Linked DNA regions of Homo sapiens: region 2 is linked to region 1. Evidence: fine-mapped expression QTL. A gene starts in region 1. The other region holds a variant in brackets. All regions are shown on one strand. Distances are from middle to middle. Region 1 holds the start of RRAGA (Ras related GTP binding A). Region 2 holds the start of PLIN2 (perilipin 2).

What was found. PIP is the estimated chance that this variant, and not a neighbour inherited with it, causes the effect.
Region 2: its variant is fine-mapped to the expression of RRAGA in monocytes after LPS (Quach 2016, PIP 0.95).

What each region holds. Positions count from the first base shown.
Region 1 is chr9:19,045,422-19,053,754 of GRCh38, reverse strand. RRAGA (Ras related GTP binding A) reads right to left here and starts at 4,328. Exons shown (of 1, transcript NM_006570.5): 1 at 2,730-4,328. The coding sequence starts at 4,095. The coding sequence ends at 3,154. It overlaps HAUS6 (HAUS augmin like complex subunit 6), which reads left to right. Exons shown (of 17, transcript NM_017645.5): 17 at 1-614. It also overlaps a transcript of SAXO1 not described here. RefSeq lists a silencer at 4,070-4,259 and an enhancer at 3,867-4,388.
Region 2 is chr9:19,126,517-19,134,849 of GRCh38, reverse strand. It overlaps PLIN2 (perilipin 2), which reads left to right and starts at 7,358. Exons shown (of 8, transcript NM_001122.4): 1 at 7,358-7,431. RefSeq lists a silencer at 7,020-7,579 and enhancers at 7,092-7,601, 7,602-8,112. The variant C/T (reference allele first, on the strand shown) is at 3,725.

The DNA of each region.
Region 1 (8,333 bases):
GGCTAATTTATTACTCTAAGTGGATTTCTTATTACATTAATATCAGACATATAGAATGTACTTTGTTTTACTATTTGTAAGATACAAAGGTATATAAACTGACATACATCAGCTTGAAACCTGAGATAATGCTAAAATGTTCTAATTATTTTAAATGTTTAAAGAGGACAACCATGTAATGTTGCTAAACATGAAAAATGTCATCAAGTGGAATAAAGAATAGCTGAAGTTAACATTTGGGGGAAATTGAGCTGAAAACAAAAATATGAGTATTTTGATACCTTTTCTTTACCATGAGACTCTTGACTATGAAGTCAAATTTATCTAAAGGAAAAACAGGAATTCTGGAGACCTGTGTAAAAGCAGACTATTATCTTCCTACTGTGAGAGTACTAAAATTAAAATACGTTTAATGACGTTTTCCTCAATGTAAAAGCATTGAAGTAAATGTTTCTTTTATGTTGCAGATACATAGTTGCTCTAGAGATCACCTTTTTCTTTATGCATTGTGAATAGCAGTCTGCATCCTAAGTTTAAAATATTTGAGAATCCTCTATGGGACTCTCTGTAAATGTTTTAAATACTGTTGTTTTCAATAAATATTTTATACTATCTGGCTCTGGAATTTCCTATATAATCTCAAAAAGAACTATGCCCCTGCAAATCATAAGATGATCACATGTAAAGTTATATTAATAACCTGATCAACAAATTTGAGAGGTTCAGTGATTCAGGTCAACATATTTTGTTACTTCCATTTTAATTACTAGATTTACAGTATATAGTATTTTAAAATGAATTTTTAAGGTTATATCTATACTGTCAGTTTACACATCTGGAGTCTTTATACTAATGTATTGCCAATGGCCCTAATTAGGTAATTTTTATAAATTACACCTGAATAGCTTCTTACTCTTCATGAGTAGCGTCATCCACATCTGCTGCTAGAAAGGGTTTAATGAACATTAAATAATTTTATAAAGCCTTAGAAATTCTAAAGCCCTATCACTTATGTTTACTGTCCATACAAAGATAGCACCTCGAGTGTAAAATGAAAGGCTTAGAGTTGATCACAGGTCTCTTCGCTCTAAAATACTTAGATTTCTTTTCAAACAATCCTTAAGGCAGCTATTGCTGGAAGTGGAATGGGACATTTTAGATCTGTTTGTCCATTTTACTACACCACATTGCCAATCCAAATTAGGAACCTCAGAATCCTTCCTTAAAAGTAGGTGATCTAAGAATCTGTTTCAGTATTATCCAATTTCTAGAGAAATACAAATGGGAAAGTGATCTTGCCCAAAATGAGTGAAACTCTATTCCTTGAGGGAGGTCACTTAGCTTCCTGGGCTTCAGCTTACCCACTATGTAAATTTGGAATTATATGAAGGAATAATCTACATTTAAAAAGCTAGGACCCATCAGTGCTGATATGTGCAAGTTATAAGAACAAAAAAAATTGCCGGGTGCAGTGGCTTATGGCTGTAATCCAGCACTTTGGGAGGCTGAGATGGGTGGATCACTTGAGGTCGGGAGTTCCAGACCAGCCTGGCCAAAGTGGTGAAACCCCGTCTCTACTAAAAAATACCAAAAATGAGCTGGGCGTGGTGGCACATGCCTGTAGTCCCAGCTACTTGGGAGGCTGAGGCAGGAGAATGGCTTGAACCTGGGAGGCGGAGGTTGCAGTGAGATCGCGCAATTGCACTCAAGCCTGGGCAACAGAGCGAGACTCCGTCTCAAACAAACAAACCAAAAATAAATAAAAAGCTATGACTCTTATGGTTAACTTTTCAATGGAAGTAATGGGGTGTAATGATTAGGAGAGTCAGTAGTCAGATTGCCTGGGTTTAGCTGTATGACCTTAATAAGATCATAGTTTGCTCATCTGCTAAAATAGCGATCAAAGTAACCTACCACATAGGTTGTGAGGATTCAGTAAGATAAATGCACAAGTGCTTAAGAACACCTGACATTTAGTAAGGGATCAAATATTCAAATAGGTTTCATATCCAGTAATTTGGGGAAGAATGGCTCAGTAGGTAGTAATGGTAGTTAACAGAGTATGCTATGCGCTAGGCACCATTCCTAAATACTTACCATGTTGAATTTAATCCTTTTAAACATCCTATCAAGTGGTTTTTTATTGTTGTTTTTGAGATAGGGTCTTGCTTTGTCACCCAAACTGGAGGCCAGTGACACAATTATGCCTCACTGCAGCCTCTACCTCCTGGACTCAAGCAATCCTCTCTCCTCAGCCTCCCAAGCAGCTAGGACTGTAGGCACGCACCACTACGCCTAGCTAATGAAAAAAAATTTTTTTTTGTAGAGAGAGGGTCTCTCTATATTGCCCAGGCTGGTCTCGAACTCCTGATCTCAGGTGATCCTCCCACTTCAGCCTTCCAAAGTGCTGGAATTACAGGTGTGAGCCACCACGACTGGCTATAAAGTAGTATTCTGACCCACATTTTACCAATGAGGAAACAAGTGTAATGAAATTAAGTATTTGCCCATGTTCACAGAGCTAGTAAGTGAAGGGACCAGAATACTAACTCAGGTGGTCTAGCTTCAGTCCATAGCATAAGCGCTTCTACAGCTGTTACCAAACATCACTAAAGTGCTGGGGGCTAAATTCACAGAATCAAATTTGCCAGTCAAGCAATACTTGTGGGCAGTCAGAATTTTTAGATTTGCATATTAAGCACTTTCAAGTTATTTCAAATAAGGACATGTTTTAAATTGCTAACACGTTTATTCATGAATGAAGCCAAGAAGAATTTATAAATGCATTTTAATACCTTGCTGATAAAATAGTAACATTCCGTCTTTGCAATCTGATACGGAATACAGGAAGATACTGGTAAAGGCTTTGATGTGCATATCTATCATAACCAGGTAATGAGAACACACACGAACCACCTACTTTAGTGTTACACCATACCAACTTCTCAGAAAGGTCAGCTTCAAGCTCTACTGGGTAGCTGAGTAAATAGCGTCCAATGTTTAAAGACTGGGGAAGCGGGGAGAAAGATGAAAGGAGTAAGCAGCACACACTTCAAAGCCCACTTTTAAGCACACGACATTATGAATATTAAAAATAAAGGATGCAAACAAAAAAGGCAATTCAGCATTTTCAGAAAGAGCATTTGGCAATATTCAACGCATAAGGAGACTGTGCTTGGGGCCATCCACTCTCTCCAGCTTCTCAAAGTGTTTCCGGGCATTGCGAATGTTGATCAGAGTGGCCGCAGAAGGGATCGACGGATCTGACATGACCACCATCACGTACGTATTTGAGGTGAAGATGTCGATGAAAGCAGCGAAGTTGGAATTCCTAACTTCCATGCTCTGGAAGGAAGCGGCCAATTTACTGCAGCTCAGCTTGAACTGTTTGATGATGTTGCTGATCTTCTCAAACCGGTGGACGTCGCGCTGCTCTTTGCACTGGTAGTGGGAAATAACCAAGAATGTAGCTCTTTCGAACAGCAGAACTTCATCGGCCTCAATGATTTGGGCAAAATTCCTGAGGTTCATCTCCAGCTGCTGAACGTTGGGAATCAGCTGGTAGACGATGCTGGACCAGGCTTTGTAGAGCGTCTCATCCCAGATGGACGTTCGAAAACAAGCACACTCCAGCGGGCGAGACAGACGCCTCAGGTCTTCCTCTCGCTCTTTAAAAATCAGGTCACGCTGATCCTCCTGAACCAGATCCATTTTGTGCACCAGGCAGAAGATTTTGGCGTCAGGAGAGTTCTGGAGGATGGCCTCCAGACACGACTGGTAATAATGCATGTCCTTTTCCAGTTCGCGGCTCTCCACGTCAAACACGTAAATCAAAACTTCCACGTTACGGAAGATATTGTCTCGCTGGCTGGTGAAGTAATTTTCCATGAAGGTGTCCTGACCGCCACAGTCCCACAGGTTCAGCACCAGGTTCCCTAGGAATCGGACGTGGGAGTGTTCCACGTCAATGGTGGCCCCCAGGCGCCGGGTGTCGCGAGCAATGTAATTGGCGAAGATTATCGACCTCATGCTGGTCTTCCCCGACCCGCTCTTCCCCATCAGCAGCACCTTTTTCTTCATGGCTGTATTTGGCATCACCCGCCGGGGCACCGCGGACTGGGCCTGAGGGCGCGGCCTACACGCAGCGCCGAGGGAGGGGTCGGGGGCTGCCGGGGACTCGCAGGCCGCGCCTCGCTCCGCTCCGCCGCGCAGCTGGGCAGGCAGGAGAGTCGAGAGCGCGAACCCGGGGCTGGAGAGGCCGCGGACGGGCTGGCTCTTACTCAGATGGGAGCGCCCGCGGCTGTCAGTGGCAACGGCTCGGGAGATACGCTCGCTTTCCGGGAGGGAGCCGCTGCGTCCCCGCCACCACCCACTTCCGGCGGCGATCTCGCGAGAGCTCCCTCGCTCCGCCCTCCGTGCCCGACGAGCCTTGAAAAGCCGCTGCTCTAATGAAACCTAACCGGGGCGGCGTGAGCCCTAAGATGGAAGGGAAGCTCGAGGACTTCGGTCTTTTGTTCTGTTGCAGCTGGGTTTGCTGTTGCTAGGGGTACGTGTGTGGTTGGCCGGGGGAAATGCTGCCCTCTCGTGGCCAAAAAAAGCCCCAACCGCCACCACCACCGCAACTGGCTTTAGGAGCGAGGTGTGTCGGGCCGGTTTCCGCAGGGGCAGCCGACTGGTGAAGTGGAGGGAAAGCCTAACTTCCCAGTCCGCTTAGGCCTCCCCAGCTTGCCCGGCCCAGTGAGTACAAGGGCAGGGCAGATGGAGACTGTGCAGGCGCGGAAAGTGAGACTTGTAGGCAAGCGATTGCCTGTTGCTGCGCAGCTAGGTAATAGCAAGTCCCTCCTAGGAGACATCCTGGCTTCCAGTGGGTGCTTTTAATTCCTTTCTCACATCTGCTTTTCCGTAATCTCAGACTTTAGAATTTATAATTAGAATTCCAAAGCTCGAGGAAATGATAATGTGGAATCCCAGGCATTAGTTCCATCCTCACAGTAACCCTGTGAATTAATAACCCTATTTTCAAGTTAGGGAATCAAAGGTTAGAGAGGTTAAGTCACTTGACCAAGTTACACAGATACTAAATGATGAAATGGAATTTGGTTTTAGACAATCTTGCTGCGGTCTATTTGCCTAACAATAGGCTACCCTGTGCCCCTCTCAAAGCATAATATGATTCTGCTCTTGGTCTTCAAGTAGATGAGTGAATCAGTGTCGCCAGTATCGTTCATACAGAATGAATGAGAGTCATCAGGATACTGAAGCCTCTGTATCTACCTTAAAGTCCTTTTTTTTTCTTTTGAGACGGAGTCTCACTCTGTTGCCCAGGCTGGAGTGCAGTGGCGCGATCTCAGCTCACTGCAACCTACGCCTCCTGAGTTCAAGCGATTCTCCTGCCTCAGTCCCCCAAATAGCTGGGATTGTGGGCACCTGCCACCACGCCCGGCTAATTTTTGTATTTTTAGTGGAGACGGGGTTTCACTATGTTGGCCAGGCTGGTCTGGAACTCAAGCCAGCCACCTGCCTCGGCCTCCTAAAGTGTGGGATTACAGGCGTGAGCCACCGTGCCTGGCCTAAAGCCCTTATCAAAGTGTATACTGTACTGTACAAATTCAGGTATTCCATTCTTTCATTTATTCAAAAAATATTTTAATTCCTACTGTTAACGTGTGCAGTAAAAGAAGTTCAAAAATGGCCTTTGCTGTAGTTTATGGAAATCATAGAGTGAAATTCCATAATACAATATAGTATGTGGAAAATCTCCTCTCAATGTATTCAGTTTCATCTCCTTGGTGCTACCTCTTCTGGAGCCTTCTTATCTGATCGCCTTTCACCACCATTCTGGGGTTTCCCTTCCCCGTTCTTTCGAGTTGGGTATTCTTTTTCCTGATTTCACATCTTCTCATTTTTGGCTCATTTGGTGGAACACATGTTCCAATAGTTTCCAGATAAAAAGTATGAGGAGAGTAAAAATTTCAAGAGATTGGATGTCTGAAAATTTCTTTGTTTTTACCCTCACACTTGATTGGTTGGACATAATTTTTCCTCAGAGTCTTGGAGGCATTGCTCTGTTGCTCCATCGTCTTTTAGCAGCCAGTAGTCTGATGCCTGCTTCTTGGTTTTGATCTATTCTTTCCTCTCTAAAAACATATTCGAAATTTTCTTATTCTAGTGTTCTGAAACTTAATGATAATTGGCATTGTTGAGCCCAAATTTGCATTGTACTGGACTCTCCAATGTGTCTTTTAATTTGGAAACCATGCCCTTGAATTCTAAACAATGTTCTTGAATTGTTTGATGATGTATTTCCTCTATTCTGTCATGTGAATACTCCTAAGGTCTGGATATCACATTTTACGGAGTCTCCTCTAATGTATTTTTTTTCTTTTTTTTGGAGACAGAGTCTCACTCTGTTGCCCATGCTAGAGTGTAGTTGCACGATCTTGGCTCACTGCAACCTCCACCTCCTGGGTTCAAGAGATTCTCTTGCTTCAGCCTCCCAAGTAGCTGGGACTACAGGCCTCCACCACCATGCCTGGCTAAGTTTTATTTTTGTTTTTGTTTTTGTTTTGAGATGGAGTCTTGCTCAGCAGCCTAGGCCGGAGTGCAGTGGCACTATCTCGGCTTACTGCAACCTCCGCCTCCCAGATTCAAGCCATTCTCCCGGCTCAGCCTCCCGAGTAGCTGGTATTACAGATGCCTGCCACCATACCTGGCTAATTTTTGTATTTTTAGTAGAGAGGGGGTTTCACCATGTTGGCCAGGCTGGTCTCAAACTGCTGGTCTTAAGTGATCTGCCCGCCTCAGCTTCCCAAAGTGCTGGGGTTACAGGCATGCGCCACTGCGCCTGGCCTTCTTTTCTTTTTAAAAAAATTTTTTAAATTTATTTTTAGAGACAGGATCTTTCTCTGTCAACCAGGCTGGAGTGCAGTGGTGAGATCATAGCTCACTGCAGCCACCACCTCCTCGGCTCAAGGGATCCTCACATGCCAGCCTCCCAAGTAGCTAGGATTATAGGTGTGTGCCACTATGCTTAATTTTTTTTTTTTTTTTCTGAGACGAAGTTTTGCTCTTGTTGCCCAGGCTGGAGTGCAATGGCATGATCTCAGCTCACCACAACCTCTGCCTGCCGGGTTCAAGCGATCCTTCTGCCTCAGCCTCCCAAGTAGCTGGGATTGCAGGCATGTGCCACCTTGTCTGGCTAATTTTGTATTTTTAGTAGAGATGGGGTTTCTCCTTTCTCCATGTTGGTCAGGCTGGTCTCGAACTGCCGACCTCAGGTGATCTGCCCGCCTCGGCCTCCCAAAGTGCTGGGATTACAGGCGTGAGCCACCGCACCTGGCCTGCCTAATTTTTAAATATTTTTTTGGTAACCCTTTCTTATTTTCTATTTCTGTCTTTTTGTTCTACTTTCCAGGAGATTTTTCTCATCCTAATTTTCCAACTCTTTGGAGTTTTAAATTTTAATATCATATTTTTAATTTCCACAGGCTGTTCTAATTGTTCTTTTTAAAAACATAAAATTATTTTCTTGGATTAAATATATTCTTTTATCTCTCTGAGGATAATAGTAACATTAAGAAAAAGTTTTTATCCCGTTTAGTCTTGGTTTCTTCCAAGTTTCTTTTGTTTGTATGTTCTCCTTATGTTCTCCTTTTTTTTTTTTTTTTTTTTTGAGACGGAGTTTCATTCTTGTTGCCCAGGCGCAACGGCGCAATCTCTGCTCACCGCAACCTCCGCCTCCCAGGTTCAAGTGATTCTCCTGCCTCAGCCTTCTCCAGCAGCTGGGATTACAGGCATGCGCCCCCAGGCCCGGCTACTTTTGTATTTTTAGTAGATACGGGGTTTCTCCATGTTGGTGAGCCACCGCGCCCGGCAGTAAAAGAAGTTCAAAAATGGCCTTTGCTGTAGTTTATGGAAATCATAGAGCATATTCATGTTAGAAACTTTCCTTATTTGTTCAGTGATCATTGGTTGTCTGCTCCTATTTAAAGTTATTTAAAAACCCGTGGGTAGCATTGAAGACTATCAGGTTCATTAAAATGACTGGGCCATTTCTTTGAAGAAAGTCTTGCCGCCTGCCTCATTTAGACCTGTGCTCTTTGGCTGGTTAGATTCTCCCAGGATTCTTCTACTGGGATGGGGTGTGTATAAGCCTGATTAATAGCATTCTGGTTACTAAGTGGGAGAAGAAAGCTAGGTTGCTAATATTCAGTTTATAGGCCAGCTTAATCCTGTTTACAATATGGTACTTCAGTCCTCTGTGTCTCTGGTGTTTCCCTAGTCCAGAGACCCCCTGTTTTACTCTTTGCATCTTTGCAGGGAATAAAAACTGC
Region 2 (8,333 bases), 81 kb before region 1:
AAATTAGCCAGGCATGATGGCACATGACTGTAATCCCAGCTACTCGGGAGGCTGAGGCAGGAGAATTGCTTGAACCCGGGAGGCAGAGGTTGCAGTGAGTCGAGATTGCGCCATTGCACTCCAGCCTGGGCAACAGAGCAAAACTGTCCCCCCCCAAAAAATTTTTTTTTTTAATAAAGATAGGGTCTCGTTGTGTTATGCAGGCTGGTCTTGAACTCCTAGTCTCAAGCAATCCTCCTGCCTCGGCCTCCCAAAATGCGGGGATTATAGGCATCGGCCACCATTCTCAGCTCACAACTTTTTATTGGAAGTGTAAGATCCATACAAAAACATATATGTCATAAGTGTACAGCTTGATGAATTTTCACAAAAGAGCATACACATGTATGTAACTAGCTTCCAGAATAAGACATAAAAAGTTACCAGCACCAAAAGGCCCCTAGCAGTCACTAGTCTTCCCACCCCCAACTCCCTGCAGAACAACTACCATCCTTACTTTTTACAGCAGAGCTTACTTTGTTTTTGTATGGTATGAACCTGTAGGTAACTGCTTTCATTTCATTTACATTACATTGCATATATGTGGTTAGTTATGGGTCTCTTCATTCTCTCTTATCACTGTATAACAACCTAAACTTTTCATTTTGAAACAGTTTTCTAAACCCACAGAAAAGCTGAAAGACCAGTACAATGAACACTCATATAACTGTTTTTTGTTTTGTTTTGTTTTTGAGGCCTTCTTATTCTGCTGCCCATGCTGGAGTGCAGTGGCGCCATCATGGCTCATTGCAGCCTCTACCTCCTGGGATCAAGTGATCCTCCTGCGTAAGCCTCCTTAGTAGCTGGGACTATAGGCACACGCCAACATTCCTGGCTAACTTTTGTATTTTTTTTGTAGAAATGGGGTCTCCCTATGTTGCCTGGGTTGGTCTTGAACTCCTGGGCTCAAGCAACCCTCCTGCTTCAGCTTCCTAAAGAGCTGGGATATAGTTGTGAGCAACCGCACTCAGCCTTATAAAACCTTTACGTAAAACATGAAGAGCTATTATTATCTCCACTTTACATATGAGGAAACTAAGACAAAAAGAAATTAGGTAACTAGCCCAGGTCATGCCCCTGGGATCTAATTTTGCCTAGCTTGCTGCTTAGTCATAAAACTATAGCCAGATCATATAACTTATCTGAGACTGTTTCTTTACTGTTAAGATGGGAGTAATAACCCCACTCCATCAAGTTTCCAGGCTGTTGTGAGGCTCAAATATGAGCGACATGGGAAAGTGCTTTGTGAAGAGTAAAGTGGTGGCACCTATCGTCACAAATGCAGGCTTCTGGGCCCCACCCCTCATAGATCTTGACTCAGTAGGTCTGGGGGAGGAGGCATAACGTTTGACAAACATCTTCGGTGATTCTGATAGTTTCCAGACCACCATGAGAAAACACATTTGTAAAACAGTAGCTTTCAAACTTTAGAAATTATAAGAATCACTTGAAGGAATTATCAAAACACAGATTGCAGGGCCCACACACAGAATTTCTGATTTACTAGGTTTGGGGTGAGGCCTGAGAATTTGCATTTCTAAGTTCCCACGTGATGCTAATGCTATTGACCCAGGACCCCCACTTTGAGAACCACTGCTGCAAAGCATTTATATAGGTCAGTTATGAGTACTGGTTAACCTGATAATCCACGATAATTTTATTAAGAGTGACTTCTAAGAAATAATAAGTTGGGGCCAGGCACCGTGGCTCATGCCTATAATCCCAGCCCTTTGGGAGGCTGAGGCAGGATTGCTTGAGGCCAGGAGTTCAAGACCAGCCTGGGCAACATAGTGAGACCACATCTCTAACACAAAATAAATAAAAAAGAAAGAAAGAAAGAAAAGAACAAATAAAAAATAGGAAATATTTATAAAAAAATTATTGGGCACTCACAAGCTGAAACAGTTTCAACTATTTATTCAACACCTTAGTGAACACCTGCTCAGTGCGGGCATTATTATATGTTAACTAGAGGTTACAAAAAGAAAAAAAGTTTTTTGACCTCAAGGAAAAAGAATGTATGAACACATAAATAATATTGTGTGATAAAGGCAAGCATAGGCCGGGTGCGGTGGGTCACACCTGTAATTCCAGCACTTTGGGAGGCTGAGGCAGGCGGATCACGAGGTCAGGAGGTTGAAACCATCCTGGCTAACACGGTGAAACCCCGTCTCTACTAAAAAATACAAAAAAATTAGCCGGGCATGGTGGTGGGCACCTGTAGTCCCAGCTACTCGGGACGCTGAGGCAGGAGAATGGCGTGAACCCGGGAGGCGGAGCTTGCAGTGAGCCCAGATCGTGCCACTGCACTCCAGAGTGAAGACTCCGTCTCAAAAAAAAAAAAAAAAAAAAAAAAAAAAGGCAAGCATAAATGTACAAAGTACAGAGGTGCAAAGATGTCTGAGTGATAGATTCCATCTAAGGTAGTCGGGAGGTCTTCCTGGGGGTGGTGGCATCTGTCCACCACCCTCAGGTGGGAATTTGAAGGATAAATTCCCAGTGAACAAGGTGGAGACAGCATGAGCAATGACATACAGGAATCCTATAATAGGATGTGTTCAAAGGACTGTAAGTAAATCTGTGTGACTAGAGCTTAAAGTTTAAGATAGGTGCAACACAAAGTATCTGAGACAGGACTCAATCAATTTAGAAGTTTATTTTGCCAAGGGTAAGGACACACACATGGGAGACAGGTCTGTGCCTTTCTCCAAAGATGATTTTGAGGGTTTCAATATCTAAAGGGGAAAGGAGTGGATACTGGGGAGAGGAGAAATTGTTAAGGGGTGTGGGCCAGTAAGAGGCAAATGGTTGCATTCCTTTGAGTCTTTGATTAGCCATTGACATGTGAGATGGGGGGGTAGAGGAATAGTCACGCATTCATCTAGCTCAGTGAATCTGCATTTTTAAATAAGATAAAATAAACATAGGCCAGAGGGAGCAATCAAATATTAATTTGTCTCAGGTGAGCAGAGGGATGCTATTGTGTTCTGTCCTATGTCCCACATCTGTGAATATAAGCTATCAATTTACATTGTGAGGATGAAATTCAACAGAACTTTTTAGGGTAAAGATCTTGGGGCCCACAAGGAATTTCCTAGTGGGCAAATTATGAGGGAGGTATGTAGCTTTTTTGTTTTGTTTTCTTTTGAGACAGAGTCTCACTCTGTTATCCAGGCTGGAGTGCAGTGTCTCCATTATAGCGGTCCCCAACTGCAGCCTTGACCACCCAGGCTCAAATGATCCTTCCACCTCAGCCCAGCAAGTAGGACTACAGGCGCATGCCACCACACCCGGCTAACTTTTGTATTTTCTGTAGAGACGGGATTTCACCATGTTGCCCAGGCTGGTCTCAAACTCCTGGGTTCAAGTGATCGCCTGCCTCAGCCTCCCAAAGGGCTGAGATTACAGGCATGAACCACTGCGCCTGGCTTATGTAGCTTATCTTTGAATAGGAGGTTTGTGTGACACAGTCCCCAGCTTGACTTTTCCCTTTGGTTCAGTGATTTTGGGGTCCCAAGATTTATTTTCCTTTCACACAGGTAAAGTCCGGAGAAGAAGCTGGTGAGAAAGAGACAGGAGCCAGATGCTGAATGACGGTAAATCGAATCCTGGAGGGAACCAAACAAAACCCTGAAAACCTCCAGGAATCTCAGGTTGGCCAAATCCTTGGTAATGTCCTGCCACT[C/T]CCCAGGACTGCCACACTGTACACACCCTATCTAATGGCAACCTACTGCAGGGGCCAAGGAAAAACGTCTCCTTTGTCCTCTGGAGGTTCACTGAAAAATCAACTGGCGGAAAGCAAATTAACAGGTCAAAAGATATACATGTATTATTATAAAAAGACGTAAATGTATTATTGGGCATGTGGGGGAACCACAGAGTAATTACTCCACCTCTCAGTGGGCTCAGAAGCTTATATACCCCTCCTGAGGTTACAGAAAGTTTGGGGGCTCAGAGAATGGTGGTAAATCAGGATTTAGTGGCAAGACAGAAATGGAAACTTGGCTAGCAAAAGTCATTTCATTATGTAGATTGGGGTCCCCAAACTTTGGGCCATTTACACTGTGGCCATTTACATTCCTGTTAGGAATAGGGCCGCACAGCAAGAGGTGAGTGGCGGGTGAGTGAGCAATACCGCCTGAGCTCTGCCTCTTGTCAGGTCAGCAGCTGGTATTAGGTTCTCTTAGGAGCAAGAACGCCGCTGTGAACTGCACATGCAAGGGATCTAGGTTGCGGCTCCTTATGAGAATCTAATGCCGATGATTTAAGGTGGAACAGTTTCATCCTGAAAACCATCCCCCTGCCCTGGTCCATGGAAAAATTGTCTTCCATGAAACCTATCCCTGGTGCCAAAAAGGTTGGGGACCGCTCATGTAGATGAAACCTCACAGGTAGTAGCCATTGGAAAGAATAGATGGTTGATGTTTCTTTCAGACCTTTAAAGGTGTCAGACTGTCCATTAACCTTTCCTATATCTGGACGAGGGAAAACCTCAGAGAGCACCTGGCTGCATCAATGCAGATTTTCTCTGTATATTGCAAGCCTCTCTCACACACACACACACACACACACACACACACACACACACACACACACACACCAAACAGCTTCGTAGGACTACTTCCGCCTGCAGGTCCTCTGAACAGCCATATCTCAAAATATGTGAAAGAAGTATATTTTGGGGTAAAATTTTTTGGTTTCCTTCACTACACATCTCACCTTGGGTGTTATTCTTGCCACTGGTTTCATGTTCTCAGACTCACGAAGCTGAAAAACAGTTGGGGATGCAGAATTTGATGTGCTTCATCCTTTGTGGGCTTGAAGAGTCTCTTGTTCCCAAAATTATTCCCTGGGGCCCTCTGCTTCACAGGCAAATAAAAGCAAAAAGAAGCTTGCTCAGCCTTAAGTGAGGAAATGACTCACAGGTTTAAAACAAAAAAGGAAAAGATGGAGGCATTTTGTAGGTGAAAGGGCGAGAGTCTTCTGATGCAAAGTAAGAGGTCATTAGAGCAGGGATGGATTATCAATAAGCAGAGCAAACATTTGCTTAGGGAACAAACAGCGCCGGAACACGAAAAAGAAAAGAAAAACATAATAATTTAATTACTTAAAACACTGAAGATGGCAACATAGGAAAAAACCCAAACCAGAACATTTTTGGACTTCATAACATTTTATGGTTCAGTATTTATGGCTTAGTATTTTATTTTGAATTACATGTGGGGAGGAGGGGTAAAAATACTTTAATTTTTCTTGCTAAGTAAGTACTATTATATATTCAGGTATAATGGGATAAGGGATACCATTTTAATGGGTCCGTTTGGAGCTTTAAATATGATCAACAGTATCTGTGTGCATGCAAGATTGGTTAAGAAACTGGGTTAGACCGAGTGCGGTGGCTCACGCCTGTAATCCCAGCACTTTGGGAGGCCAAGGCGGGCGGATCACGAGGTCAAGCGATCGAGACCATCCTGGCCAACATGGTGAAACCCCGTCTCTACTAAAAATACAAAAATTAGCTGGGCGTGGTGGCCCGCGCTTGTAGTCCCAGCTACTCGGGAGGCTGAGGCAAGAGAATCACTTGAACCCGGGAGGCTGGGGTTGCAGTGAGCCAAGATCGCGCCACTGCACTCCAGCCTGGCGACAGAGCGAGACTCCGTCTCAAAAAACAACAACAACAACAACAACAACAGAAAATGAAAACAAATTGGGGTAAAAGTCTCTGAGAGCTTCCTACAGTTACAACTCCAAAGCTTCACAAAGCCAGTCCCTCCTGGCTGGAGCCAGGGACTCCAACGCTGTGGGCCTCTCAGGGGGCGGACCCGCGGCGCCAGCGCCTGCTCCCTTCCCACCTCCCAACCCTCCTCTCTGCTGTATCCTCCCTGCGAGCTGTGTCGGGGGCCGGGGGGGGGGAGTGGGGGCCGAGGCCGGACAGCTTCATCTGGAAATCCCCCGCCACTCACGGGGGAAGAAGTCCCACGAGCCCTATCTGGCCTCGGGCGCTGGCGCAACTTGTCTGCTCAAATAATCTCGTTCCAAATCTGTGCGTTTTACACAAGAAACAAACAAACAAAACAACAACAACAAAAAAACACAACTGGGACTCAGATGACGTTTTAAGTTGTCTTTGAAAAACAATGCATAACCCTGCACGTATAAAGTTGCCTATGTCACATAACCCTAGGCAGCTGTCATTCTGGAGTGATCTGGAGTTAAGTTTTTTGTTTTCTTTTTCTTTTTTCTTTTCTTTTTTTTTTTTTAGACAGGGTCTCAGTCACTCAGGCTGGGGTGCAGTGGTACAGTGGCGCGATCTCGACTCATTGCAGCCTCGACCACCTGGGCTCAAAAGATTCTTTCACCTCAGCCACCCACCCGCCTGCCCCCAACCCCGCTAAACAGCCGGGACTAGCTGGGACTACAGGCGCGCGCCACCACGCTGGGCTGCTTTCTTTGTATTTTGAGAGAGACGGGGTTTCGCCATGTTGGCCAGGCTGGTGATTCGCTCGCCTCGGCCTCCCAAAGTGCTAGGATTACAGGCGTGAGCCACCGCGCCCAGCCGCCACAAAACTTTTAAAAGTTATTACTTCGCTAAAAATAACAGCGTAGAAGCCATTGTGCAGCGCCACGCGATCTCGGCTCACTGCAGCCTCGACCTCCCAGGCTCAAGCGATCCTCCCATCTTAGCCTCGCAGGTAGCTGGGGCCACAGGCGCACGACACCACGCTGGGCTATTTTTTAAAATAAAATAAAAATCTTCGCCAGGCTGGTCTCGAACTCCTAGGCTCGACAGATCCTCTCGCCTCAGCATCCCAAAGTGTTGTGATTACAGGCGTGAGCCACCGCTTCCATTTTTAGAGTTCTATTCTGAGGACTAACGCCGTTCAACAAGTTGGTGTGAATTTGTTTGCATTTTTCAAAACCCCAAAGCCGGCCTGGGCGCCATCCCCATTTGCCCCGGGCCTCTCAGGACCCCGACCACAGGCAGGACCCCGACCACAGGCAGCGCCCCGACTCCAGGCAGCGCCCCGACTCCAGGCAGGGCTACCTCCAACTCCCAGCCTCCCCAGGCCGGGCCCCCGCCCGGCTCCCGACAGGCTCCTCTCCCCGTGGCGGGGCCCCTCGCCCAGGCAGCACACCCTCTCAACCCGACCGGGCCCCCACCACTCTAGGAGGGCCGGCGTTGGGGGAGGGCGCCGGGACGTGCCCGAGGGTGACACTCGGGCTTGGGACAGGGCGTGCTGCCGCGGGTCACGTGCTGCGGAGGCTTGGGGAGGGGCGGCGAGGCGGGGTTTATAGCCCGGGCGCCCGCGGGCCCCACGCTTTGACCGGGTCGTGGCAGCCGGAGTCGTCTTCGGGACGCGCCTGCTCTTCGCCTTTCGCTGCAGTCCGTCGGTGAGTGCGCGCCCAGTGGGTGCCCCAGCGAACCGGTCCCGGGCCCCCAGCGGCGCCCAGTTGGGGTGGGGGGCTCCCCGGGGCCTTGGGACCGCTGCTCTGCTCCCCGCGGGGCTCAAAGGTGGACGGGACGCGGGGGTGATGGTCCGAGACCCCCCGCTCGCCTCGCGGCTTCCAGGTCCTGGCTGGGTAGGGGCGGTCTGCTGAACCCGCGCTTTCGACCCTTGCCTTTGTGCGTTGAGGCTTCTTTCCTGCCAACAGATTTAGGGCGATTGCTATCGAATGTCCCTTGGCCTGCTTGGGTGGTTGTGGGAAAACAATATTTGTCGAAGGGACATTATCGAAAGGGAAACGCGTTAGAAAACCGCATTTTTTTTTTGACGGAGTCTCGCTCTGTCGCCCAGGCTGGAGTGCAGTGACGCCATCTAGGCTCACTGCAACCTCCGCCTCCCGGGTTCAAGCGATTCTCCTGCCTCAGCCTCCAGAGCAGCTGGGATAACAGGCGCCCGCCACCACGCCCGGCTAATTTTTGTATTTTTAGAAGAGACGGGGTTTCACCACGTTGGTCAGGCTGGTCTTGAACTCCTGACATCAAGCAGTCCACCCCCCTCGGCCTCCCAAAGTGCTGGGATTACAGGCGTGAGCCACCGCGTCCGGCTTGGCTAGCATTTTTGTTAACAGATACTCGGAGAAACAAGAGAAGTATGTCAACAACTTTACTTCTCCCTCCTGAGTATTGCAAGTTTACACATAAGCTCTGAAACTTTGCCTCAAAAGAGGGAGTGGGGTTGTGTGGGTGTGGGTCTTTCAGGAGGGGGACCTGGAGAGCTGGAGAGAGGAAAGAAGTGCAGAAGACTACAGGGAGCTCACCCTGCATTTTTCTCTACTTGTAATCAGCATTT